Linked DNA regions of Homo sapiens: region 2 is linked to region 1. The links come from fine-mapping of genetic effects on gene expression. A gene starts in region 1. The other region holds a variant in brackets. All regions are shown on one strand. Distances are between the middles of the regions.

Region 1 (17,143 bases):
GGCTTCTCCATGCATTTAACTCCTACTTTTCCTTGGGGCTCAGTTTAATTAATTCTTAAGTCTACATCCCAGGACCTAGCACGGGGCCAGGTCTAACATCTCAGGTTCCTCTCTGCTGATCTGTCCCACTGTGAGAAAATAGTCATGTCTCACCAAATCTCTTATTGTGGCTAATTTGAGTCCTGGTTTTCCTTGCTTTCAGTAGCTAAGAAACCATGGGCCAGTTACTACTTGCTCACATCTAAGATGGCATGAATCAGTCCCAACTTCACAGGTTCATTGTGAAAGTTAAATGAGATGGCAGATATGAGAAGAAATCCTTTGTTAATACTTATGTACTTATTTATTCAGCATCAGTATAAGTATTTAATATTTATATACTTATCCCTGAGCTCTTCTAAGAATGGTTTAGGAGGCCCTGTGTTGGGTACTAGTATGGCCTTTCCTCTTGTGGAGTACAGATTAGTGGATCTTATAGTCTACTGTCCTGCACCAGACACTGAGTTCCTTGGGTCAGGGACCATATGTTATTCGTCTCTGCACAGCAGGTGTTCGGGAGATATTTGCTAGCTGGGTGAGTGAACCAGCGATTTATTGAATAAATGACTGAATGGCATTCTAGGTAGAGAGAAAAAAACAGATGCAAATTCACAAAGATGTTATGGAGCAGGCCACATTCAAAGAACTGCAAGTAGTTTAATGTCGTGGGAGCTCAGGGTGTGAAGGGGGTGTGACCAGCAGTGAGGCTGGAGGGTAGATGAGACCAGATCACCAGGGGCCATTAGGCTTATTAAACAGATAAGCTTCTGAGTAGGGCAATGGGAGGTTTCAAGCTGGCTTTAGGAAGCGTCCTATGTTGCAGTGTGGAGTGCGGACTAACGGCAGATTGGAGGCTATTGCAGGAGCAGGATAGTGAGGAGACTGTGGCTATGGAATGAAGAGTTCCTGGGAAGTAGAATGGGCTGGGCTTGGTGAAGCATTGGCAGGGTTGGGGTGGGGAGGGAGGGGTGGTGGGTGGTACCGGGGTTCTGACCATTCACATGTTGAATGTTTCCCCTGTGTGTGTCTCAGATTCCACCCCTGCTGACAGTGTGTGCCCTGGCGATGGAGCAGTGTCCTTGTTGCAGATTTGAACCACTTTCACCTCGTAAACAGCAGCTGGTGAGAGGAATGGACTTGCACATTCATTCGTTTTACAAATGAAGAAACTGAAGCACAGAGAAGGAAGGAATGATTTGTGCAGGAGGTGGTATTTGAGATACTCATCATTTTCTCTCATTACCCACATTTGTTTCTACTCCTGTAGTAGTTTGGTTAAAGGCAATAGACTCCTTGTTCCTTATATTGTGCCTTTTTGTGATGTGACTTCGCTCTTCTTCCCAATCAAAAGTGGAATTTATTTCTTCCACCCCTTAAATCTGGACTGGGCTTGTGACTTGATTTGGTTAATATAATGCAGCATATGTGAGGTCGTGCGATTTCTAAGGCTTGGTCTTTAGAGATTGTGTCTTCTGCCTTTATACTCTTGGAATGCTGCCTTGAGACCACCATGTAAGCTGGTCTAGCCTACTAGTGGATGAGAGGTCACATGCAGAAAAACTGGGGTGCCAGTCCTCAGCTGGCACTGATTGCCAGACTTATGAATAAGGACATCTTAGACCTTCCAGGCCAGCAGCCCTTCCAACTGAATGCAGCTCCTGAATGATCGCAGGTGAAACCAGCAAAGGAGGCAGTTAGCCACTCACAGAATTATGAGAAATAGTGAATTATTGCTGTTTTAAGCCACTAAACTTTTGGGAGTGTTTTTTAAATGCAGCAATAGATAACAGAAACAACTTCTTTGCTTCCTGTTTCAGTAAATGGTTTTATTATCTACCTGGTTGTTTAGGCTGGTGCCCTTTTCTTTATATCTCACATTTAATCTGTCACCAAGTCCAGGGAACTTTACCTCCTAAATATATATCAAATCCCTCTGCTTTCTACCTTTCCCATTGCTATGACATTAGCTCAGGTCCTAGTCATCTCTTATCTAGATTATTACAGCAATCTCTATTGTTTTCTCTGTCTCCTATCTCTCTGCTCCCTATCCTTCCCATCCAATCTGTTGTATTCCCCTGCCACAGGCAGAGCTATCTTTCTCACAAGAATATGTAACCATGTTACTCCATTGCTTAAAATCTTTTTGTTTGCAAGGTAAGCTCCCAAATCCCTAATATGATGTACAAGGCCTTGGACCATCTGGCCTCTTCTTCTCTTTCCTCCCCGATCTTCCATCACTCCTCTCATTGAATCCTACATTTCTCAGCTGTTTCACAGGTACCTGCTTCAGCTACCCTATTGCATGGAGCAATCTATTGAATGGGTTGGATGGAAATGTCTGACCTGTCAACACATCTGAGTTCCTAAGCTGGCCATGAGGGACTCACACTAGGGTAAATATTCACCTTGTGAAAATTTGAACATTCCAAACGACATCCGCTTGTGCCATTTTCTAAGCCACTGATTATCATTCAATAAAAAGCTGACACCTGCGATCTTAGCTTCTTGGAAGGCTGAGGTGGGAGGATTGCTTGAGACCAGGAGTTCAAGATCAGACTGGGCAATATAGGAAGACCGCCCCCCCCCCCAACCCTAATAACAACAACAAAAGAGCATCAATTCTATACTTCTTATAAAACTAGGAGTTGGAGAAGGCTGATTACTCTGGCAACTACAAAAGGAAATTTTGTTGTAGGACTCTATTATTTATTTATTTATTTATTTTTGAGACAGGGTCTCTCTCTGTCACCCAGGCTGGTATGCAGTGGCATGCTCTTGGCTCACTGCAATCTCTGCCTCCCAGGTTCAAATGATTCTCTTGCTTCAGCCTCCCGAGTAGCTGGGACTACAGGCGTGCACTACCATGCCCAGCTAATTTTTTGTATTTTTAGTAGAGATGGGGTTTCACTATGTTGGCCAGGCTGGTCTCGAACTCCTGACCTCAGGTGATCTGCCCGCCTCGGCCTCCCAAAGTGCTGGGATTACAGGCATGAGCTACCGTGCCTGGCCTATTTATTTATTTTTTAAATATAGAGACAGGGTCTCTCCATGTTGCCCCAGCTGGAGTACAGTGGTTATTCACAGGCATGATCCCACTACTGATCAGCACAGAAGTTCTGGCCTGCTGTTTCTGACCTTGGCTGGTTCACTCCTCCTTGGGCAACCTGGTAGCCCCACACTCCTGGGAATTCACCATATTGATGCTGAACTTAGTGAGAACACCTGTTCTGCATAACACACATAACAGCCCAGAACTCCTGAGCTGAAATCATCCACCTGCCTCAGCCTCCCGAGTAGCTGGGACTACAGGCAGGTGCCATCTTGCCCTTGCAGGACTCTTAATCACAATGATGTTCACTGGGCAATCAAAATATAATTTTAGAGTCTAATAGAAAACGCCCTGTCCTTGGAGTCAGACAGACCTGCTATCTGGCTCTGCCACTTACCAGTTGTATGACCTTGGGCAAGTCACTTAAACTTTCTCAATTCTCTTTCCTTGTCTATAAAAAAGGGATGATAATCTATAACTTGCATAATTATATTGAGGATTAAATGAGATAAAAGATGTGAATAATCTTAGTGTAATTTAAAGATTCAATGAATATAATTGTTAACTAATCTGAGCCAAGACAAAAGGTAGAATTTTGTCTTCATTCAGGGGCCAGGTTCAGTGGCTCATGCCTGTAATTCCAGCACTTTGGGAGGCTGAGGCGGGGCAGATCACCTGAGGTCAGGAGTTTGAGACCAGCCTGACCAACATGGAGAAACCCCGTCTCTACTAAAAATACAAAATTAGCTGGGCGTGGTGGTACATGCCTGTAATCCCAGCAACTCAGGAGGCTGAGGCAGCCAAATCATTTGAACCCGGGAGGCGTAGGTTGCAGTGAGCCAAGATCACGCCATTGCACTCCAGCCTGGGCAACAAGAGCAAAACTCTATCTCAAAAAAAAAAAAAAAAGAATTTTGTTTTCCTTCCCATTCTTCCTTGGGCATTTGGATCTGGAAGTGAAGACAGTCCAGTATAATTTGATTTGTGTTGTTCTTCCCTCAGGTGGTTACCTTAGTCAATAAGAAGGTAGCTTATGAGGGCATAAATGATGCAACCCAAATGTCAGATGTGGCCTCTCTGCCTCCTTTTTTTTTTTTTTTTTTTTTGAGATGGAGTCTCGCTCTGTCGCCGAGGCTGGAGTGCAGTGGCGCGATCTCAACTCACTGCAAGCTCCGCCTCCAGGGTTCACGCCATTCTCCTGCCTCAGCCTCCCGAGTACCTGGGACTAAAGGCGCCCACCACGACGCCCGGCTAATTTTTTGTGTTTTTAGTAGAGACAGGGTTTCACCACGTTAGCCAGGATGGTCTTGATCTCCTGACTTCGTGATCCGCCCGCCTCGGCCTCCCAAAGTGCTGGGATTACAGGCATGAGCCACCGCCCCCGGCTTTTTTTTTTTTTTATTTGAGACCAAGTCTGACTCTGTCACCCAGGCAAGAGTGCAGTGGTGCGATCTTGGTTCACTGCAACCTCCGCCTCCCGGGTTCAAGCGATTCTCCTGCCTCAGCCTCCCAAGTAGCTGGGATTACAGTCACCTGCCACCATGCTGGCTAATTTTTTTGTATTTTTAGTAGAGATGGGGTTTCACAATGTTGGCCAGGCTGGTCTTGAACTCCTCACCTCAGGTGATCTGCCGACCTTGGCCTCCCAAAGTGCTGGGATTACAGGTGTGAGCCGCTGTCTGGCTGCCTCTCTGCCTCTTCAAGATCCAAATGCAATGGGCTTGAACCTCAATATTCACATTTCCCAACTCATGTAAGTGCAAAGTCCTACACAAGTTTTTGCAAGTTCCACAAGGGCTTGTGGTCTCACAGTTACCTCTGCTTCCAGTCTCCTTTTTCAACTGAGACCTAACAAAGCACATTGCTCAACTCCCTACTCATGTACTCTCACAATTCCCCTCTCTCAAAAAGCGTTCCTGGGTGTAATAGCCCTTCCTGAAGTCTTGAGAGTCACATAGGATGGTCACGTCCTAGTGTAACAAACAACTTATCCCATTTTAGGTATCCCACTGCTGAAACACTCTTGTCAACTACCATGGGAGAGTTTCTTCTGACTCTTTACCTATGTAGCACCTATCCTTACATTGATTTTCTTACTCATCTTTTTCCTTTTCCCCTCCGATCTCTATTAACTTGCCCTCCCATTTTGTCAAGTGAATTCCAAATTTGCCTTCCCCCAACCCTCCCACCCCCACCTTTTTTTTTTTTTTTTTTTTGAGATGGAGTTTCACTCTTGTTTCCCAGGCTGGAGTGCAACGGCGCAATCTCGGCTCATCGCAACCTCTGCCTCCTGCTACCCCTAATTTTGTTTAGATGGAGTCTCACTCTGTTGCCCATGCTGGAGTGCAGTAGCACAATCTCGGCTCACTGCAACCTCCGCCTCCCAGGTTCAAGTGATTCTCCCGCCTCAGCCTCCCGAGTAGGTGGGAGTACAGGCGCCCACCACCACGCCCGGCTAATTTTTGTATTTTTAGTGGAGACAGAGTTTTACCATGTTGGCCAGGCTGGTCTCGAACTCCTGGCCTCAGGTGGTCCCAAAGTGCTGGGATTGCAGACGTGGGCCATCATGCCCCACCTACCCCTACTCCCTTTTTAAACATAGAGAGCAATTTCTTCTCCCAAAGTTACGTATTCACTCTCATCAATTGAGGCCCCAAGCAGGACAAAAGGACTTTCTGTGCATTGGGATCTGTCATTCCTGGAAGGCAGTTGTGGTTTAAAAATAGCACTTTTTTTTTTCTGTTATACGAAGCACAGTGTTTCCTATTTGTTGAATGCTTACTGTATGCCTACCACTCTATCAAGTCCTCTCCAGTAGCTTGTGTTCTCATTTGATCTTCCCAACAACTCTGAGAAGCAGCTCTTATTATTGCTCTTTCTACAAATAAGGAAGGGGTGTGCGTGCGAGAGAAATTAGGTAATTGGCATAAGATCACACAGCAAGCAAGGACTGAAGACCAGGTCTGCCTGGCCCCAAGCCTGTGTGTGCCCTTTCTAATTTACTATACCGCCTTTCAGAGGAGGGAGAAGGAGAAAGCAACCAGAAGAACTGAGGCTACATAAAAGCAATACCATCTGTTCTCATATTGTCTCACAACTTTAAAAGGATGGCTCTATATGCTGTCTCATTATTCCTAGGAAGAAAGAATAATCATTATCATCTCGTCTATTTTGAAATGAGGGAAGTAGGGCCTTGTGAGAGAAAGAGAGTGAGGGAGCAGTTCAGCGTAGCATGTTTGATTTTGCTATTACAGAGGTACCAGCAGTGGGTGATTAAGAGCTCAAGAGTGACCATGGGAGCTGGTGGCCAAGGTGATGTGGAGGACAAGGACTGAGGGACCAGGAAATCTCATAGCTACTGAAGTCACCAGGAGGATGGCAGGACAGGGGCTAGTGAGGATGACCATGAGCCAGGGGCTGCAATCTGTAATGCATAAGGAGCAATTGGGGGGTCAGTGATGAGGAGGGGTTGAGGGGGGTATGGCTGGAGAGCACAGAAGAAAGAATTTTTGCACAAGGGTGGAAATGGCCATGCCATCCCCACATCCTAGTTTTATAGTATATGGGGAGTGGAAAAATGAGAAGCCTTCTAGCAGAGGGCAGCAAAGGAGGCAGTACCTGGAGGAGGCTCAGGCAAAGAAGTCACCTGAGTACTCTGAAGAAGCAGAGGGTATAGCAGAGTTTGTTGACAAAAGAACAGGATTCTAGAAGGCACAGAGGAAAGAGCTGCCAGTGTGATGGGCAGTGTGAGTGAAAGGGCTGGGCAAGAAGCTCAGAAGAGTAAGCGTCTGAGGCAGAGGCCAGACAAGCAGAGGAGCTGTCAGCTTGGGTGGTTCCTAGGCTGGAGATGTACACTGTAGACAGGGTCATAATGGAACTTGGGGGGAAAATGGTTTTGGTATTTGACTCAGACCTCTAAGATCTGAGATGGGGGAGAAGTGTGGGGAAAGACAATGATTCTAGAGCAAGCCTTCAGCTGGCTCCTGTGACCTCAGGAAGACTGGAAGTCCATATCAGGATTTGAGGGTGGGGTATTTATTGCCTCCTCTATCTGCCTCCTCTAGTGGAAGTGGGACTTCCTAGGGCCAGGCCAGGCAAGAACATTTTTCTACTCCTGTTGACAGCCTCCTGGTAATGGGAAACCATTGAGAGGTTTTTGTTTGTTTGTTTGTTTGGTTTTTGATGGAGTCTGGCTTTGTTGCCCAGGCTGGAGTGCACTGCTGGAGTGCAGTGATCTCGGCTCACTGCAACCTCTGCCTCCTGGGTGCAAGCAATTCTGCCTCAGCCTCCCAAGTAGCTGGGACTACAGGCATGCACCACCATGCCCGGCTAATTTTTGTATTTTTAGTAGAGACAGGGTTTCACCATGTTGGCCAGGTTGGTCTCGAACTCCTGACCTCAAGTGATCTGCCCACTTTGGCCTTCCAAAGTGCTGGGATTACAGGCGTCAGCCACTGTGCCTGGCCGAGAGTTTTCTTAAACAAGGTTGATGGTAACATGGTGACATTTTTTAAAGGGTTGCTCGGGCTTGTGTCAAAATGATTTTGGTATCTGACTCAGAATGAATGGGACCAGGAAGTCTCACAGCTACCGAAGTCACCAGGAGTATGGCAGAACAGGGGCTAGTTAGGATGACCATGGGCCAGGGGCTGCAATCTTTAATGCATAAGGAACAATTGGGTGTCAGTGATGAGGAGGGGTGGAGGGTGGTATGACTGGAGACCACAGGAGAAAGAATTTTTGTACAAGGGTGGAAATGGCCATGCTGACACCACGTCCTGGTTTTATAGGGTGAATTGGAGAGTGAAGGCAGGAATTAGGAAGCTGTTGCATTAGTCCAAGCAAGAAGTGATGATGCTGGAGTCAGAACAAGGGCAATGGAGACACAGAGGAAGGGCAGGGATATGTTAAGGCGGTGGGATGTGGGGTGTGAAGGAAACACAGATAGGGTAGAGGACAGCGTCCAGGTTTCTGGCTTGGTTTCCGCTTGTAGTCAGCCTCCCTCTCTGGGCTTTTGTGAAGACGGAGCCATAGAACGGACCGGACCAGAAAGCAGTTTGGAAATGGCAAAACTGCTACCCATCATCAGCTACATTATCATCAAAGCTCTCTAATTACCCTAGTAAGTTCAGTCAATGGAACGAGGCATGACAATTAAGATAAATCACGAGAGTCACCCAGACATGGGGGACCTGGAGGTCCTGAGTCACCTCGGATTACACCTGCTAGGAGTTGAGGGCCGGGGCGGGGCGAACACAGACTCCGCCCTTGGGCGGGGCCTGGATGCGGCCGGAGCGGAGCAGTGCTGGAGCGGGAGCCTCAGCCCTCAGGCGCCACTGTGAGGACCTGACCGGACCAGACCATCCCGCAGCGCCCCGCCCCGGCCCCCTCCGCGCCCTCCCGACGCCAGGTCCTGCCGTCCCGCCGACCGTCCGGGAGCGAACCCGTCGTCCCGCACTCGGAGTCCGCGGTAAGGGGCGCGGCCCCGGCAGCCCGCCCGCGGAGGATCAGGGACCGATCCCCGGCGCGGGGCGCTGGGCACCGAGAGCGGGCGCCGAGAAGGAGCGCGGGGCAGCGGAAGGAAGCCGGGGGAGGAGCGAGGGAGGGGGCTCCGCGGCGGCAGAGGTGGGGCTCACCTAGGGAGGGGGCGCCGAGGGGGTCTCCCAGACGTTGGGGGCAGCCGGGGGAGCTCCAAGGGCGGGAGGGGAGCAAGAAAGACGGCGCTGGGGCTGGGAGGAGAGATGGGGGGCAACTGGAGGGCAGTGAGGGATCGCTGGGGGAAACGGGGGCGTGGGGGGCGGGGGAGCTGCGAGGAGGGCGGAGTGGGGCTGTGCGGAAAGGTGGTACCGGGCAGCCGAGGGGCAGCGAAGGGGGCGGTGAAGGGAGCGGACTGAGGGGAGCTAGAGCGGGGGTGCGGGGGGAGGCATGGAGGTGAGGAGCTGAGGGGAGGGGACTGGCTGGGCGGGGGTCGTTTGGAGCTGGAGGGGACTGAGGTGCCGAGGGCAAGGGGCGCTGGGCAGCTGGGGAGTGTCTGGTTGGGAGAGGGTCGGGGGTGGGGATGTGGGTATGGATAGCTGGGAAGGAGAAAGGCAGCAGGGCAGTGTCTGGTCGAAAGAGGGTCATTTATGGGGGATGTGGGTATGGATAGCTGGGGTCGGAGGTTGAGCCCGGCTGGGGACCGGCGTGGGGGTAACTGTAGATGGAAGACGAGGGGTGGGGCTTGGGGGCGGGAAGCTTGGGAGAATGGAAGGGTGAGAGGCCAGGTTGGGTCTACCCTGCTGCAGAGGAAGGGGGCAGGGAGCCGGTGGAGACACAGGGAAGTGGCCTTGGAAATGGACACAGGGGCCTACATTCTGGTCAGGAGTGGAGAGGAGGCTCTGGAATAGAGTAGGGTCTGGCGGCTGCAAGTGGAGGAATCGTGGGAGAACTTGGAGTGTATAGATAGGGTGGTGGGGCGCTGGGTCAGCCTGGGGAGGAGGCCAGGTGTGGGTCGTGGTGTAAGGGTGGAAAGGTAATGGGGGCTGGAGTGGTGTCCACGCACTAGCGGTGTCTCGGCCACTCAGGAGTCCAAGGAGGGGACCCAGGCACTGGACCTTGTTACACGGGCACCGGGGATCACAGAAAATAAGAGAATCGTGGACAGAAAAAGTCATCCAACTCTGTTCTGTAGTCCAAGCATGGAAGCAACTTTGGGGAGGGCAGGGCAGCAGCCTTTGGAAGCTAAGAGAGATGTGGAGGAGGTGGGAGAAAGATGGGCCCTCAAAACACACACACACACACACACACACACACACACACACACACACACACACAAAACAAGATGGGCCCTCTTCCCCCGGCTTCCTGGAATCCAGATGGAAAGGGGTGGGAGACAGTAAAAGGAGAGGATGTGTGTGTGTGTGTGTGTGTGTGTGTGTGCGCGCGCACAGGTGGGTGTCCACCTGTTCTGTGCCTATAAACAGAGGAAGACAATGGAAGCCGTGAAAGGCCCTATCTATAGAAGTGGAAAGCCCTGGTGCCCTGTGGGAGCCAGAGAAGAAGCATTTTGGGGGAGGTGGGTGGGTTGGGGAAGCCTTCCTGGTCATGAAGGATTTAGCTAGCAGTGGAGGAAAGTGTGTTCCTATCAGAGGAAACCGTATGGGAAAAGGCAAAAATCTAAAAGCATCTCCAGTCCAAGAAATAGATCTTCAGTTTCTTAAAGATTATGACATGAAGGGAGGCATCAGTAACCTATACAAAATATTTAAATAGATTTCCCCTCTAAGCTTGAAGCTCCTAGGGTTTCTCTCCATCTCCCTAAAGTATAGCACAGGTCCTGGTGCATAGTAGGTGCTTGGTGAATGTTGATTGAATGAATAATTGGTGCTCCTGCCTCAATTTCTTCATCCATTCCCAAGAATTGTTGTGAGAATCAAATAGGATAATGTGGGTGAAAAGAACTTTGTAAACTGTAAAACAATGTACAAAGAGAGAGGCCACTGATGTTATTCTGCAGGTGTTCCTGTTTTGTCAGTGGACACACCCATGGCTATCTCTTTCCAATCTGGAGGAGGAAGGAAATGAATATCAAGCATCTGTTGGTGCAAGATGGAATGCTTTGAAAGCATCTTGTAGAATGCTAGACATTTAGTAGGTGCTCAATAAATGGTAGCTATTGTGATATTGTTTCTGTGGCTCTAGGAGACCTGGGAAAACAATGAGAAGGTGGTGATGGGTCAGCAGTGGGGAATGGTCTAAAGACAGATTGAATTAGAAAAGTAGAGTATGGCTTAAAGGAGGATGAGGTCCACATTTGCCCAACTCCCTTCTTATTCTCACTGAAATGCTCCAAGTAGGAAGACAGGGAATTACATTATTGAGCCCCTGCTATATTGCATATACAGTTGACCTTTGAACAGCATGGGTTTGAACTGTGTAGGTTCACTTATACCTGAATTTTTTTTTTCAACCAAACACTGATTAAAAAAAATACCATGGTGGGTCAAGCGCAGTGGCTCAAACCTGGAATCCCAGCTATTTGGGAGGCTGAGGTAGGAGGATCGCTTGAGCCCAGGAACCTGAAGCTACAGTGAGTTATGATCAGGCCACTGTACTCCATCCTGGGAAACAGAGTGACACCCATCTCTTAAAAAAGAAGAAAAAGAGAAGAAAATACAGTAGTGAAGGGAGGTGAAGTCTGTATATTCAGAGGACCAACTTTTAGTCTAGGTGGGTTCCACTGGGCCAACTGTGGTTCTTGAGTAGGCGTGGATTTCGGTATATATGGGGGTCCTGGAGCCAATCCCTTGCCTATACCAAGAAATTACTGTACTATTCTAGATGTATAACCCACATTACCTATAATTTTCCCAACAACACTTGTTTTATGAATGAGGAAACTGTCTTAATCATGTAACATTTCTTGCCAAGGTCTCATAGGTAATAAATGATAGACCTGGAAACTGAATCTAGTTTGTTTGATTTGGAGCTCCAAACTATTTCCACTACACAGGATGACTTGCTAGAAGAAACCATGAAGCACAGAGACAAACAAACAAACAAAATAAGGGGTTAATAAAACACCCTCCCATATACAGGTTTTAATTCTTGCAACAGTTTTGCCAGGAAGCCATTTTATGAGCTCCTTTTATAGATAAGGAAACTGAGGCCAGGGGTGTGATTTGCCTAAGTTTACAGGATCACTGAAAGAGCCAGGGCTTATCTTTCAAATGCCAGGTCTCTTGGACTCAGTCTCATGTTCTTTGCAACAAAAGGTAAGTTCCTTCATTCACTTCTTCACTCCATTTATTGAGCTGATCTCTTCTCGCTGGATTTTAGGGCTCTCTCCTCCTCCTCCCCGCTCTTTCCTGGCTGAAGTTGGCTTCTTCCTTAGGTGCTTATTTCTGCCGCCTATCAGACTGAAAGGGTTGTTTTTCACAGCCACCCTTTGAGGAGTCATTTCTTTCCCCCAGCCTGGGACAGGGACGACTTCCCAGATGGTCCCTGGGCCTTCATCTGTATTGCTTGTCACGGAGATAGCTCTATCATTTTATGTGACTGTCACAAAATAGAGGAAAGATTTGATTGATGCTTATCTTACAAATGCAATTCTGCATGCACCACTGTGCATGACCTGTCTGCTTAGATCTGCCTCAGGCAGCTGCCTGCTGGGATGCTTTTTGCCTGTCTTCCAAATGTCTGAGTAGCCCCTGGCCGCCCCCTCCTAAGAAGATCCCCTTGGGGGCTTCCATCTGAATGAGCCTTCCAACTGAACTCAGCTCTCTGCCTCTCCCCGTTCTCACACCACCTACTGGGAAAGCCATGCTGTGTGTGCATAAGCAGATGTTAACAGTGTGGTATGGCAAGTACAGTACGGTAGCAGGACACTCAGGATGTTGGGTATGCTTCTTTTTTTTAATTTTTATTTTTAGAGATAGGGTCTCACTCTGTCACCCAGGTTGGGATACAGTGGTGCAATCATAGCTCACTCTAACCTCGAACCTCTGGACTCAAGTGATTTTCCAGCCTCAGCCTCCCAAGTACCGAGGACTACAGGTGCACACCACCACATCCGACTAATTTAAACTTTTTTTGGCTGGGCGCGGTGGCTCACGCCTGTAATCCCAGCACTTTGGGAGGCCGAGGCAGGCGGATCACAAGGTCAGGAGACCGAGACCATCCTGGCTAACACGGTGAAACCCCATCTCTAGTAAAAATACAAAAAATTAGCCGGGTATGGTGGCGGGTGTCTGTAGTCCCAGCTACTCGGGAGGCTGAGGCAGGAGAATGGCGTGAACCCGGGAGGCGGAGCTTGCAGTGAGCTGAGATCGCGCCACTGCCCTCCAGCCTGGGCGACAGAGTGAGACTCTGCCTCAAAAAAAAAAAAAAAAAAAAAATTCGTAGAAATGGAATCTCACTATGTTTCCCAGGCTGGTTTTGAACTCCTGGCCTCAAGTGATTTTCCCATTTTGGCATCCCAAAGTGTTGGGATTACAGGCATGAGCCACCATGCCCAGCCAGGATGCTTCTTTATTCACCCTAAAATTGTTGTGGTTTTCGTTTTCCTTAATCCCGTCAAACCTGGAAGCCATTAGGTAACAGAAGTTCCATTCATGACCCTCCAACTGACTTGCTGTGTGAGCTTGGACAAATCACTTGTCTTTGCAGAGCCTCAATTTTTTTTTTTTTTTTTTACCTGTAAGATAAACGGAGGTAGATCAGGAACTGAAACAATTTTTTACTCTTGCCATCACTTCCTAGTCTCCTATCTGTGGCAGTCACAGCTAATAAAGGCAGGCAAATTTCTCACTGATTCTACACGAGGCTACATGTATTTTTCTCAGCACAGTGTATGAAACATACTTATATACGTTCTCTTATTTAAAATTCACAGCACCTCGTGAAGTAAGTATTATTGTCAGATGAGGACACTGAGGCATAGAATTTAAGTAACTAGGCCAAGTTTACACACTGAGTTACTGGGAAAGCTGGGCCCAGTAGCCAGGCTTTTTGTTACAATAAAAAGCTGCTACTCCAAAGTCCCCTCTAATTCTAGCAGTTTAAGAGTGTGAAGCTGGGCTACATCAGAAAAGTGAAAACCAGTAATCTGACATTTACACTGATAGTCTGGCACTTGAAAAATGCTCTATATGTGTTTCTTGAAAGACATAACACCCTCTAAGGATTTACTGTAGGTCTAGCGTTGACCAGATGTAAGGATGGATAAAGCCCCCTTGAATCCAGAAGAGAGAGCAAACAGTTAATTGTAAAACAGGCCCAAATAATGGAGCCACAATCAGGGAGAGGGCAGTTGAACAAGATTTGCCTGCAGAAGTGAATTAAAGGGGCCAGTGAAATAATATGTATTCAGTACCTCCATGGGCCGAGAAACTGTGTCAGATTGTTTACGTATAGTACTACTCTTTCTATTTGTACCAAGCTCTGTGAAGTAGGTGGTATTTTCTCTATTTTAAGGTAAAAGTGCTGTGGCTTAGAGAGGCAATATGACTTACCTAAGAATTCATCTGAGGGTAGAGCATTGATTTTAAACTTTTTCATAACACTGCAGGGTACTAAGTCTAGTCTCGGCTGTTAGCTATGAGATTTGGGCAAATCCTTTTAATTTCTCATTTTCAGTTTCCTTCTTGATCAAATGGAAATAATAATCCACGTCTTTCCAGCTTTATTTCCCAGGTTTATTTAGAGATAAAAGAAGATAAAGGATATGAAATTGTGGTAAAGATCACATTTATGTTTTAGTAGTGACTCTTTGACCAGCAATTCCACTTCAAGGAATCTCTCTCAAGGAAGTAATTAGGAAAATGTACAAAAATTTATGTAAAGAAATGTTCACTGCAGTTTCATGTATAATAATTAAGAGTAGAAAAACAACTTAAAAACAACTTCCTAAAGAGAGTGACAACATTAAATAATTGATCTGGCTGGGCCAACATGGTGAAACCCCATCTCTATTAAAAATACAAAAATTAGCCGGTGTGATGGTGAGCACCTGTAGTCCCAGCTACTTGGGAGGCTGAGGCAGGAGAATCGCTTGAACCCAGGAGTTGGAGGTTGCAGTGAGCCAAGATTGTGCCATTGCACTCCAGCCAGGGTGACAGAGCAAGACTCTGTCTCAAAAAAAAAAAAAAAAAAAAAGAATTGGTCTTATGACACATCTATAGGATGGAATATAATGTAGTCAACTGAAATGATGTTTTTTTAGAGTTTTCAAAGTCTCGTTCATGCTTTTTTTTTTTTTTTTTTTTTTTTTTTTTTTTTTAATTAGAGAGTCTCCACTGTTGCCTGGGCTGGAGTGCAGTGGCACAATCTCCGCTCACTGTAACCTCCGCCTGCCAGGTTCAAGTGATTCTCCTGCCTCAGCCTCCAGAGTAGCTGGGATTACAGGCAGCCACCACCACGCCCAGCGAATTTTTTGTATTTTTAGTAGAGATGGGGTTTCACCATGTTGGCCAGACTGGTCTCGAACTCCTGACCTCGTGATTCACCCGCCTCAGCCTCCCAAAGTGCTGGGATTACAGGCATGAGCCACCGCGCCCAGCCCTTACTTTCTTTTCTTTTTTTTTGAGACAGTGTCTTGCTCTGTCACCCAGACTGGAGTGTAGTTGTGCAATCTTGACTCACTGCAGCCTCCGCCTCCTGGGTTCAAGCAATTTTTGTGCTTCAGCCTCCTGACTAGCTGGAATTACAGGTGTGCGCCACCACACCTGGCTAATTTTTATATTTTTAGTAGAGACTGGATTTCACCATGTTGGCCAGGCTGATCTTAAACTCCTGAGCTCAAATGATCCGCCTGCCTCGGCCTCACAAAGTCCTGGGATTATGGGCCTGAGCCACGGCACCTGGCCTCAAAATCTCATATTTTTGTAGTACTTTTGGTACTACTAAATTTTTGTAGTATTTAAGTACAGTCTTGCATTGCTAATGACAAGGATATGTTCTGAGGGATGTGTCATTAGCCGATTTCATAGTTGTATGAACATCATAGAGTATACTTACACAAACCTATATGGTATATGGTATAGCTTACTATACACATAGTCTATATGGAATAGATAGCCTATTGCTCCTAGGCTGCAAACCTGTACAGCATGTTACTGTATTGAATGTAGCAGGCAATTGTAACACAGTGGTAAGTATTTGTGTAGCTAAACACATCTAAACATAGAAAAGGTACAGTAAAAATATGATGGTTTTTTTTTTTGAGACCAAGTCTGGCTCTATCACCCAAGCTGGAATGCAGTGGTGCAATCTCAGCTCACTGCAACCTCAGCCTCCCGAGTAGCTGGGATTACAGGTATCTGCCACCATGCCTGGCTAATTTTTTGTATTTTAATAGGGATGGAGTTTCATCATGTTGGCCAGGCTGGTCTCTATCTCCTGACCTCAAGTGATCCACCCACCTTGGCCTCCCAAAGTGCTGGGATTACAGGTGTGAGCCACTGCACCCAGGCATAATATGGTATAAGAGATAAAAAATGGTACACCTATATAAGACACTTAACCATGAATGGAGCTTGCAGGGCCGGCAGTTGCTCTGGGGGAGTCAGTGAGTGAGTGGTGAGTGAATGTGAAGGCCTAGGACATTACCATACACTATAGGAGACTTTATAAACACTCTACACTTAGGCTACACTAAATTTATTTAAAAATATGTTTCTCCAATAATAAATTAACTTTGGCTTACTATAACTTTTAAACCTTATAAACTTAAAAAATTTTTAAAACTTCTTAGACTCTTTTATTTTTTATTTATTATTATTATTATTATTTTTTTGAGATTGAGTCTTGCTCTGTCACCCAGGCTGGAGTGCAGTGGATCTCTGCTCACTGCAACCTCCACCTCCCGAGTTCAAGCAATTCTTGTGCCTCAGCCTCCTGAGTAGCTGGGATTACAGGTGCGCACCACCACGCCTGGCTAATTTTTGTATTTTTAGTAGAGATGAGGTTTCACCATGTTGGCTAGGCTGGTCTTGAACTCCTGACCTTAAGTGATCTGCCTGCCTCGGCCTCCCAAAGTCTGGGGTTACAGGTCTGAGCCACCATGCCCAGCCATAGACTCTTTTATAACAACACTTAACTTAAAGCACAAATACACCGTATGGCCTTTTTTGAGATGAAGGCTCAGTGTGTCACCTGGATTGGAATGCAGTGGTGCAATCATGGGTCACTGCAGCCTCAAACTCCTTGGCTTGAGCGATCCTCCCACCTTGGCCTCCCAAAGTGTTGGGATTATAGGTATGAGCCACTGAACCTGGCCTTTTCTTTCTTTTCTTCCTTAGTTTTTAAATTTATGTTTAAAATTATTTTGTTAAAAAGGAAGACACAAATACACACACCTGAGCTTAGGCCTACACAGGGTCCAGGAGCATCAATATCACTGCCTTCCATTTCCATGTCTTGTCCCACTGGAAGGTCTTCAGGGGCAATAATAGGCATGGAGCTGTCATCTCTTATGGCAATATCTTCTTCTGGAATACCTCCTGAAGGACCTGCCTGAGGCTGTTTTACTGTTAACTTTTTAAAAAATATTAAATATAAATAGAAAAAGTACACTCT
Region 2 (11,516 bases), 620 kb before region 1:
AGTGCAGTGGTGAAATCTGGGCTCACTGCAACCTCCGCCTCCCAGGTTAAAGCGATTTTCCTGCCTCAGCCTCCCCAGTAGCTGGGACTACAGGCACAAGCCACTGCCCCCGGTTAATATTTGTATTTTTAGTAGAGACAGGGTTTTGCCATGTTGGTCAGGCTGGTCTCGAACTCCTGAACTCAGGTAATCCACCCTCCTCAGCCTTCCAAAGTGTTGGAATTACAGGCGTGAGCCACTGCATTCAGCTGCAGCCTTCTTCTACCAGTGGTTCAATGACTGCCTCTGCCCCAGGGTTTATTTCTGGCCGTCAGATTTGGGACTCTAAGGAAGATCTTCTTATACCAATAGAAGACAGACGCTTCATGCTAGGCCAGGTCACATCATTTCTCACTTAGATTCCACAAGGCCCTGCATGATCTGGCATCTGCCTACTTCTCTGGTCCTTCTCCTTATCATGTGGCTCCAGGCAGCACTAGCTCTATCATATCAGCCTTTTCCTTCCTTTAGGCTTTTGCCCAAGCCACTCTATCTGCTTAGGACTTCCTTACCATTTTTTCCCTAACTCTTATTAAAATTTCAGCTTTCAGCTTTAATGTCATTCCTCAAGGAAGTCTCTGAATCCCACAATAGGTCAAGTGCCACTTTTATACACACTCACAGCTCCCTGTACTTATCATAATCCCTGTGCTTATCATAATTGTAATCACATAATAATCAGAATAACTATTTGTTTAATGTTTATCTTTTCCACTGTTCTCTAAGAGCCATAGCAGCTGGGAACATGCCCATTTTGTTTGCTGATGTACAGTTAGAACTTAGGGAGAACTTGACAGATATGCAGTGCTCAAGAAACATTTGTTGATGAATGAAAGTCCCTGCCAATCACAACATTCCAGGAAGTCCCCTACAGCCTGGCTCAGAGAAACAAATAAGCAATTAGGATGGGACCTCCTTTTCTCTCAGGACCTGGGGCCAGTTGATGTTGAAAGAGAATCGTTTGGGGGTAAGAGGAGAGCTCAGTAAAAGACAAAGGCCTGTATTTTTCCATATTCAGAAATGACCTCTTCCCCAAACTCCTAACTGATGGTTTCTGACTTGCTAATCTACTCTAAACTCAGCAGAGAGCTAAGGGATCAGGTAACTAAAATATTGATTAAGGCTGGGCGTGGTGGCTCACACCTGTAATCCTAGCACTTTAGGAGGCCAAGGAGAGCAGATCACTTGAGCCCAGGAGTTCAAGACCAGCTTAGGCAACATGGCAAAAACCCATCTCTACAAAAAATACAAAAATTAGCCAGACATGGTGGTGAGCATCTGTGGTCCCAGCTACTCAGGAGGCTGAGGTGGGAGGATTGCCTGAGCCTAGGAGGTTGAGGCTGCAGTGAACTGTGATTGCACCACTGCACTCCAGCCTGGGTGAGAGAGTAAGACCTTGTTAAAAAAAAAAAAAAAAAAAAAGAAAATTTGATTAATAACTAAGACATAGCAAATACTTTTAAACTACTAAATCCTAAGATATAACTGAATAAATAAAGTATTTGGCTTGTAAATAAGGTGTTAGAAGATAACTAAGGTGGTGTTAGTAGATAATCAAATATTAACTACTCAAGTGTTATTTGATAACCAAGGGATTAATTTAAAACCAAGATCTTAGCAGATACTGGTTAACCAATGACTAAGGTGACTGTTGATAAGGATTTAAAGTAACTTTTTCCTAGGGGACTCTTGCATGTATTAGAGGGGGGTTGGGAACAGCAGAAGCTGATAAAGTCCACAGAAACACAGGGCTAATTGGGAGCGTAAGGTCCTCAGACGGACTCTAAATTTCTGAGGAAATGGGCTTGCTCATCTTTGGTTTCCAGATAGGGCTTAGGCAGGAGCAGGCATGGAGTTGGTACTCCAAAGGCTTATGACATAATTTAATTTCATCTATTAAGGGCCTAGCACTGTGCTCAGGAGAGGGAAGGGAGGGCAGTTTCTTAAGTGATGGGAATAGAGTGTGATAAGTAAGTGGTGTGTGAAAGAGAAAGCTCCAGGGGCTGCCAAGGCAGAATGGAAGGGAGAGCAGATGTGTTGGGGAAAGATGAGGGTGAATTTAGTTCTGGCCATGTTGAATTGAGGTATCTGTAGAGATGCCCAGGAGGCAGGTGGATGGGAGTCCTGCATGGATATAGAGATTTGGGTGTCAGCAGGGTGTAGATGGTGGTCAAAACCATGGGAAAAAATGAGCTGGCTACAGAACGGTATATGGGGTGAGAAACTAGATCAGACTAGAACCCCATGGAAGACCAACAGGGAAGGGGTGGATAGAGAAGGGAGAGACATTGACACTGAGAACGAAGGAACACTTAGAGAGATGGGGGAAACTAAGAGAAGACAGAGGAACGCCAAGGACCGAGCAAGTGCCAGGGAGAAGAGCAGAGTCTGCAGTGTCACATGCAGCTGAGAGGTCAAGGAAGACAAGGTGAGAGATATTCATTGGCTTTAACGATAAGGCACTAAGTGATGGCCTTGGTGGGCACAGTGAGGGGAGGCATACATACGGGTGGTGGAGACAGTGGGTATGGAGGGAGGAAGGTAGCTGCAGGAGACTGTGGTTCCCAGATGTCCAGTGTGAACATGTGTGCAAGCTGGGCTTCACTGTGTGTGTGTGCATGCACACAAGTACATGCAGAGCTGCAGCTAAGAGGAGGGTGTGTAAGGGCAGCTGAGAGGCCACCATAGGAGGGGCTGTGGTCACCCCATGGACAGCCTTCACTTTACTTTTGTTAGCTTTTGAGAAGCACCATGAAGGGAGACTGTGAAAATCCTAAGCACGGTTTAACCCTTTCATTGTCCAGTGAGAAAACGGAGGACAGGAGAGAGGGAAGAATTTGCTGTGAGTCAGGGGCACAACAGGAACTTGAATCTGAGTCTCCAGACTTCTAGAAGAGTGACCTTAGATAAAGTACACCTGAAATTCTTATTGGCCAATGAATTATCTACCAGTGACTCTGCCCATCACCCCATTTTTTTTATAGTATTTTGGTCTGTTGCTCAGGTTGGAGTGCAGTGGCGTGATCATAGCTCACTGCAGCCTCAAACTCCCAGGCTCCAGTGACTCTCCTCACTCAGCCTCCTGAGTAGCTGGGACTATAGGTGTGCACCATCACACCTGGCTAATTTTTTGATTTTTTGTAGAGATGAAGTCTCACTGTGTTTCCCAGGCTGCACCCCAATTTTTAGCCACCTTTCCACATTTATATAAAGGTGAAATATGGATTTGACATACAAAATTCAAACATTACAGAAACTTAATGAAAATGACTCCTGTTATCCTACCTCAGCCCCTCGCAGACAACCACCATTAAGAGTTTGGTCTATATTTTTCCCTCTCTCTTTCCCTCCCACTTAACATTGTAAATTTTTTAAAAATTTGGGACAGGGTCCACTCCCATTGCCCAGGCTGGAGTACAGTGGCGCAAACACGGCTCACTGCAGCCTCAACCTCCTGGGCTCAAACAATCCTCCTGCCTCAGCCTCCTGAGTAGCTGGGACTACAGGTGTGAGTGACCACGCCTGGCTAATTTTTAAATTTTTTTGCAGAGACACGGTCTTGCCATGTTGCCCAGACTGGTCTTGAACTCCTGGGCTCAAGCAATCCTCCCACCTCTGCCTCCCAAAGTGCTGGGATTACAGGCGTGAGCCACCTAATGCACCCAGCAACATTGTACATTTTTAATAAAAACATTACACTTGTTCATACTGGTTTTTCTGGGTATGTGAATGTGTTCATTCTGTTTTACAACTTATCATTTTTTCACTTTTGGACAACTTTCTATGGTAGCATATGGAGACTTCATTCATTCATTTTAATAACCATATTAGTTTATAATTTGAGGCAAGGTCTCCTCTGTCACCCAGGCTGAGTGCAGTGGCATGGTTACGGTTCGCTGCAGCCTTGACCTCCCAGGCTCTAGCAATTCTCTCACCTCAGCCTCCTGATAGCTGGGACTACAGGCATGCACTGCCATGGCCAGCTAATATTTTTTTGTAGAGGTGGGGTCCCACTATGTTGCATGGTGGCGTGTGCCTGCAGTCCTAGTTACTCAGGAGGCTAAGGATGCAGTAAGCTACGATCGAGCCACTCTTCTTCAGCCTGGGCAACAGAGTGTGACCCTGTCTCAAAACAAAAAGCAAAAACAAAAGGTATGAGCATTTTGTTTTAAAAGATATTGCCAAATCACCCTCCAAACACTTGTGCCAGTTTATCGTACCACAGTTTATGTGAATGCCCATTTCCTCACATCCCTGCCAACCAGGGGTATTATCATTAAAAAAATATCTTTCGGCCGGGAATAGTGGCTCACGCCTGTAATCCCAGCACTTTGGGAGGCCGAGGCGGGCGGATCACTGGGTCAGGAGATTGAGACCATCCTGGCTAACATGATGAAACCCCGCCTCTACTAAAAATACAAAAAAAAAAAAATTAGCTGAGCGTGGTGGTGGGCGCCTGTAGTCCCAGCTACTCGGGAGGCTGAGGCAGAATGGCGTGAACTTGGGAGGCAGAGCTTGCAGTGAGCCGAGACTGTGCCACTGCACTCCAGCCTGGGTGACAGAGCTAGACTCCATCACAAAAACAAAACAAACAAACAAAAAACTTTCCAACTTCAATGAGGCTGGACATCTTTTTGTATCCTTATTACGCATCTATAGTCTTCCGTGAACTATCTATTCATCTCCTTTGCCTATTTGTTATTGAGGTGTACTTTTGGCTAGTGGATTACTCAGTGAATTTTTTTTTTTTTTGAGACAGAGTCTCTCTCTGCTGCCCAGGCTAGAATGCAGTGGCGTTATCTCCGCTCACAGCAACCTCTGCCTCCCGGATTCAAGCGATTCTCCTGCCTCAGCCTCCAGAGTAGCTGGGATTACAGGCACCTGCCATCATGCCCGACTAATTTTTATATTTTTGTAGAGACGGGGTTTCACCATGTTGGCCAGGCTGGTCTCAAACTCCTGACCTCAGGTGATCCACCCGCCTCAGCCTCCCAAAGTGCTGGGATTACAGGCATGAGCCACTGTGCCCGGTCATGCCAGGCTAATTTTTGTATTTTTATTTTTTTATTTTTATTATTATTATTATTATTGAGACGGAGTCTTGCTCTGTCGCCCAGGCTAGAGTGCACAGGCTGGAGTGCAGTGGCACGATCTCTGCTCACTGCAAGCTCCGCCTCCCGGGTTCACACCATTCTCCTGCCTCAGCCTCCAGAGTAGCTGGGACTACAAGCGCCCGCCACCACGCCCGGCTAATTTTTTGTATTTTTAGTAGAGACGGGGTTTCACCGTATTAGCGAGGTTGGTCTCGATCTCCTGACCTCGTGATCCGCCCGCCTTGGCCTCCCAAAGTGCTGGGATTACAAGCGTGAGCCACCGCGCCCAGCCTAATTTTTGTATTTTTAGTAGAGATGGGTTTTCACCATGTTGGCCAGGCTGGTCTCAAACTCTTGACCTCAGGTGATCCACCTACGTTGGCCTCCCAAAGTGCTGGGATGACAGGCGTGAGCTACCGTGCCCGGTCACTGAGTTCTTATTGGGCAATAATGATTGGCTTAACCAAAGGCCTGGCAGCCTTTGTACCAAACTGCTAACACTGTTTACCTCTAGGGAGGGAGACTATGGAAAATGAGGAGGATACTTTCATTTTTATTTTATATCGTGAGGTATTGTTTGGATTGTTACAATGAACTTGCATTTCTTTTGTAATGAAGAAAATAATACAGAGGAAATAACAACAACTAAACCTTTGGCCTGGATTATCATCGGCTGGAAATTCATGTTGGATGCAAGTTTTTATTGATAACAAGTTATTTTTTGGTTTATATGCAAAAAATGTTCATTGAATGCCTCCTATTTGGCTGGCACTGCCTAGGCACTTTCACAGGTATTTCATCCTAATCCTCACAACAGCCCTATGAGGTAATCATTGGTCCCAGTTTACAGAAGCCTTGGGTGGGAGATTATTGCTTGATATACTTCTATTTGCCACACATTTTTGTTGGCAAGACGTTCGTATCGGCTGGTGATTCACTGGTCAAGAGCTCTCATTGGCCAGGAGTTCCTATTTGTTGCTGTAAGATTCAAATAATCAAAATACTAGAATTTTTCCCCCACAAGAATGATGGGACCAATGGCATAAGAGTAAAGGAAGGAGAGTCAGTGGGTCTCTCCCTTTGAAGCACCATTTGAGTTTGCATTGGTCAGCCCCACACAGGTGGGCGGGATGAGGTGGTGGAGGAGGAGACGCGGTGGTTATAAGTCTTCTCGCTTCAGTAGGATGAGCTTCCTCACGAGCGCTGTGATCTGGGGTCTGACCTCCTCCACTGACACAGTTGGGTCCCAAGCCCCTACCACCTTTCCATCTGGGGCTACTAGGTACTTCCAGAAGTTCCAGGTGGGCTCCTTCCCAGAAGTCTCTAGAGAAAAAGGAAGGAGAGCAAAGCGTGCTACCCTGCGTACCCTCTCCTGGGACTTCACTCTCAGTGTCCATCTTTCCCTGGTGGCAGCTAATCCTGATGCCCAGTCCACACCCCAGACCACTCCAACCAGAATCTCTGAGGGTGAGGCTCAGGCATCAGCATTTTTCAAAAGCCCCCTGGGAGATTCCAAAGTGGGGCCGAGGTTGAGAACGACTGCTGTAGGATTCTGTGACGTGCTTGATAAAGTGGTATCAAATCCTCCTTTATTAATGACTTCGAACTACTGAATAGTCTACACCCTATTCTCTAGTTCAGTTTTAATGGTTTCCAAATGTTAGTCCATGGACTGGTTTCATCAGAATCACTGGGGGTCAGGGGAGTGCTTAAAATAAAGATTCTTGGGCCCTGCTTCAGTAGGTCTCAGCCTTGTGCATTTTTAAGAGCTCCCCAGGTGCTTCTAAAAGCAAGGCCGGGTTTGATCTATAACTGTGAGAACTGGGAAGGAACTAATAAAAGAACACAGAGAAAAAAATCAACATTAGGACTGAGCCACAGAGCAAAACACAAACCTGCCGCAGTAAGGGACCTTTTGTTTGCTGCACTCTTGCTTCTCATTTACTCCTCCAGGTGAATGGGTTGCAGGGTGGGGTGGTGGCAAGGGATACAAAGGCCACCAGAAGCACGGAATCAGAAAAGGCAAAAATGGGGCCTCCAGAGGAGAAGGCCTGAGGGAAGAAATGGTCAGAATGGCAAGCTTAGCCCATGAGCCCATTCTGTGGCTCTGAGGCTTCTGCAGCTGGAGAAGGGATCTTGTTCTCAAATACTAAGATCTGGTATTTTAGCTTAGAAGGTCTCCCTCCATGGCCTACAGACTCCGCCACTGACTCAGGGTGAAGATGCCTGTCTACTATCTTGGTCAGCTTTCTCCAAGCAGGTGGCCTCCCCTGTCTATGCCTTGGTTTCTCCATC[A/G]TATGTCCATAAACTCATCTAGTTCACACTGACTTAAATGTCTCCTTCTAGGAGCCCCTGAATGTGAAAACAGGATCCCAGAAAAGTCCAAAAGAGTGACTTCTGAGGGACAAGTGAGAGGCAGCAGGTATGGAGATATTCTTAGGCAGGAATACCCCTCAGCTTCTACCTGCCTCCACTCTCCTCAAAGATTAGTGCTGGAACAAAGCATCAGTCCACCTGAGATGATCAGGAAGGGGAAGGGGCCCCAGGTCACCCAACCAGCCAGTGGCTTCTGCTGCCCAGGGAGCCATGGCCTCAGCCAGCTAAGGGAGGTGTGAGGGGATGAAGAGACCAGGACTTACGGGCCAGGTACTTGAAGGCAGGATGGGCACCAGTACCGGTGACTGCAATCTTGCTAAACATGGGGAATGAGACACTGTAGGTGCGGCGGGCAAAGCTCTCAATCTCCTTGTTGCTGTCAGGCTCCTGTTGGCCAAACTGGTTGCAGGGGAAGGCGAGCACGTTAAAGTGGTGGGGGCCCAGGTCTCGCTGCAGCTGCTGCAGGGCTCGGTAGTGCTGGTCTGTGAAGCCGCACTCGCTGGCCACATTCACCACCAGGGACACCTGTATGACAGAAACAAAACAAAACAAAGCCCAGACAAGCCAGTGAAGAGGCATGAACCTGTACATGCCCTGACACATCCACATATGTGACTCCCTCAACAGTTAATACTGCCTCACACATACAAGAACACTGTGTACACATATGTAAATGTGTGTCCAGTGCTCTCACACATACACAAACACATGCACACAGACAGGCACATATGAAATCAAACATTCAGGAGCTTACAGATGTGTGCACACATACATGAACATCTGTGAACATAAGTATACAACATACATAAATAGGTATGCACATGCACCACGATACAAACATGTTAGCAAACACCACACATGCCCACACACACAGCACATCCACAGACTGGGGCACACATACTGGTGAGCACATACTGAGAACTGATAAGAGGGGGTACAAAGGGAGACCTGGGCTCAATTTTTGGCTCAGTCAGCTAGCACTCGCCACTCTGCACTGTGTCAGTCTCCCTTCTAGAATGTGAACCTACTGAGGGCAGGAGCTATGTCCACTTCATCTCTGGGCCTGGCATATGAAAAAGTCTCAGTAAGTTTCAGATGAATGAGTAAGTGTGCACACAAACACAAACGCCTGCATGGGAACATAGACACAGGTTTTCTTGAGAAAAGAACCCTCATAACTCCAGGGCAATCACCTTTTTGTCCCCCTCCTCTCCAGAGAACTAACACCACTTTTGTTGTTGTTGCTGCTGGAGCAATGGCATAATCATAACAGGACATCCCCCCAACCGTTTGCAGTCTCAAACTTCTGAGCTGAAGTGATCCTCCCACCTCAGCCTCTCAAATAGCTAGGACTACAGGCACGTGCCATCACACCTGGCTAATTTTTTAATTTTTACTTTTGGTAGAGACAGTTCTCGCCATGTTGTCCAGGCTGGACTCAAAAACTCTTAGCCTCAGGCAATCCTACCAGCTAAGCCTCTCAAAGTGCTAGGATTACAGTCATGAACCACCATGCCCAGCCTACCACTTTCTTTTATCATTAGACTAATCCTTAAATTTATTAAAGCCTTTAGGCAATAAATACAAAGCTGGCTAATGGAACTTGATTATAAGACTTTGATTAGAATTTTGGCTCAAATGCTATGTTTTTAGCTTCTAGGTATATATTATTAATGGATTTAAAACCCTAGCCGGTGCCTAGGCAGCCTAGCCCTATCCTCCATAATTGACATTTGGGTCAGATAATTCTTTGTTGTCGGGGGGATGTCCTGTTTATTTATTATCAGATGTTTGGCAGCATCCCTGGCCTCTACCCACTAGATGCCCAGTCTTGACAATCAACAATGTCTCCAGACATTGCCAATTGTGCCCTAAAGGGAATAATCACTCCTAGTTGAGAACTACTGGGCTAGATGATTGAACCACTGAGCTGTACCTCCTGTACCCTACCTCCACCAGGTGAGAAAGGACCCATGCCTGGGGCCACTGGCTATTAGAACAACCTCCTCAATTTGAGGTCAGCATACACCATACTGTGCCTGGAATGGTGAGAAACTGGGACTGTTAACTCCCTTCCTCAGTTAGGGTTCTTCCTTTTTTTCCCCCTGCTGGATCCCTGGGCAATGAGAACATTAAAGCTTTTTTTTTTTTTTTTTTTTTTTTAAAGACAGAGTCTTGCTCTGTTACCAAGGCTGGAGTGCAGTGGCGCGATCTTGGCTCACTGCAACCTCCACCTCCCGGGTTCAAGCAATTCTCCTGCCTCAGCCTCCTGAGTAGCTGGGATTACAGGCACACGCCACCATGCCCAGCTAATTTTTGTATTTTTTAAGTACAGACGGAGTTTCACCATGTTGGCCAGGCTAGCCTCGAACTCCTCACCTTGTGATCCACCCGCCTCAGCCTCCTGAAGTGCTGGGATTACAGGCGTGAGCCACTGCGTCCGGCCAAAGCTTGCTTATTTTTAACTCACAACTTGCATGTCTGCCCGCTCTTTTGGAAGGGGGAAAATCTGGCTTCTAGTTCCATCCCTGAAACCAAAAAGCTTGGTCCTTAGAAACCAAAACACAGACAGACACACCCAAGTACACACAGTTAATTTACATATGTACATATACAAGCACAGACACAGACTCAGATTTGTACACAGAAGAAGTAAACCATTCACAAAGGCACACACTACACATAACCCCACACATTCCCAAGTGGTCACCCATTCATCCATACTGGTCTAAATGACTATGGTCCCAATTAGCCTGAGGGCATCAACCATGTCAATCTTGCTCATGACTATGTCATCAGAGCTGGACCCAGTGTCAGACATGTAGTAGGAGCCAGTAAATGTTTGCAGGTGAAGGAATGAGCATATTGCCCAAGCAGCAAGCCTAGCCTGGGTTAACTCAGCACCAATTACAGCTTTTCTGGACTCCCTGTTCCCTGGTTTACTGCTGAACTTGGCAACTAAGAGCATAGACTCTGGAGCTGGACTGTCTGGGTTCAAATTCTTACTGTCTTACTAGCTGTGTGACCTTGTTCTATTTTTGTCTTAGCACTTACTACTACTAGGAATTACCTCGTGCATTTCTCAGTTCCTTGTTTATTGTCTTTCTTCTCCTTACCCCATGTAAGCTCCATTTAGTGGAAATGTATCTGTTTTGTTCACCACTGTATCCCCAGGGCCTGACCTAGTATCTAGTTAGTATACAGTAGGTGTTCAATAATGAACAACGAATTAATAAGTAGCAGAGCTGGTCAGACGCTAAACCTGGGGCTCTCTGGTGAGCTGCCCTAGAGAGAACAGGAGGCCTGAATTGGAGCGGGCCCTGTTCTTGGTTCTTTGCCCAGAGTTCTAAATGAAGTTCCTGCTGGGATCCACCAAACACAGGTGCAAAGCACTCTACAGTTTACTAAGTGCATCCACGCCTTCATCTGATTTGAAACTCACGACACTCTGGGGGACAATCAAGCAGGGATTACTGTCCCCAAGACTCCCAGCATAATCGAAAATTTCAAGGCTTATAGAGTACTGGTCTTCACTAAAGATGGTGTTGCTCCCAGGAGAAAAATGTTGACATCTATTTTTGTGTGGTTCATCCAAAACTGGACGCTGGCCCACCTGTTCATTAGATTTCAACTCCCCAGCCATTTCACACCAGTCCCCAGGTCCATCCTGAAGAGGTCCACTCTGGGAGTTCTTCACTGCACATAATGTGACATGCAGGCCTCTCAATGTAGTGTTCAAGGTCCCGCCTGCTCCCTTGCCAGTCGTTTCAGCCTCATCTTCCACCACTCGTAGCCTCCAGCTTTAGACTCTTTGAAGCACAACAGCTGGAACTCCTGGCCCCGCGCCCCCCCACCCCCTTCTTGCTGTTTGCTTCTTAGTCTTGCTAAAATCCACTCGTATTCAAAGACTCAACCCAGATACCCTTCCTCTCCGAAGTCTTCTCTGAGCTTAGATTCCCTCTTGGTAATGAGGGGGCAATTAGCCTGGATGACTCTTATGTGTGCCCC

Direction of the effects. Alleles are on the strand shown, and positions count from the first base shown. SD is a standard deviation of normalised expression in the study named.
For the expression in sun-exposed skin of the gene that starts at base 8,410 in region 1, G is the high allele of the variant in region 2 and A is the other (large effect, 0.87 SD a copy in GTEx).

The links.
Region 2: its variant is fine-mapped to the expression of RAB3B in sun-exposed skin (GTEx, PIP above 0.99).

What each region holds. Positions count from the first base shown.
Region 1 is chr1:51,981,967-51,999,109 of GRCh38, reverse strand. RAB3B (RAB3B, member RAS oncogene family) reads left to right here and starts at 8,410. Exons shown (of 5, transcript NM_002867.4): 1 at 8,410-8,558. It also overlaps the pseudogene RN7SL290P. RefSeq lists a silencer at 8,387-8,496.
Region 2 is chr1:52,603,201-52,614,716 of GRCh38, reverse strand. It overlaps GPX7 (glutathione peroxidase 7), which reads right to left. Exons shown (of 3, transcript NM_015696.5): 2 at 7,772-8,033; 3 at 5,666-6,455. The coding sequence ends at 6,292. Among named protein-coding and RNA genes, the nearest start is that of GPX7, 6.6 kb to the right of the region's middle. The variant A/G (reference allele first, on the strand shown) is at 7,428.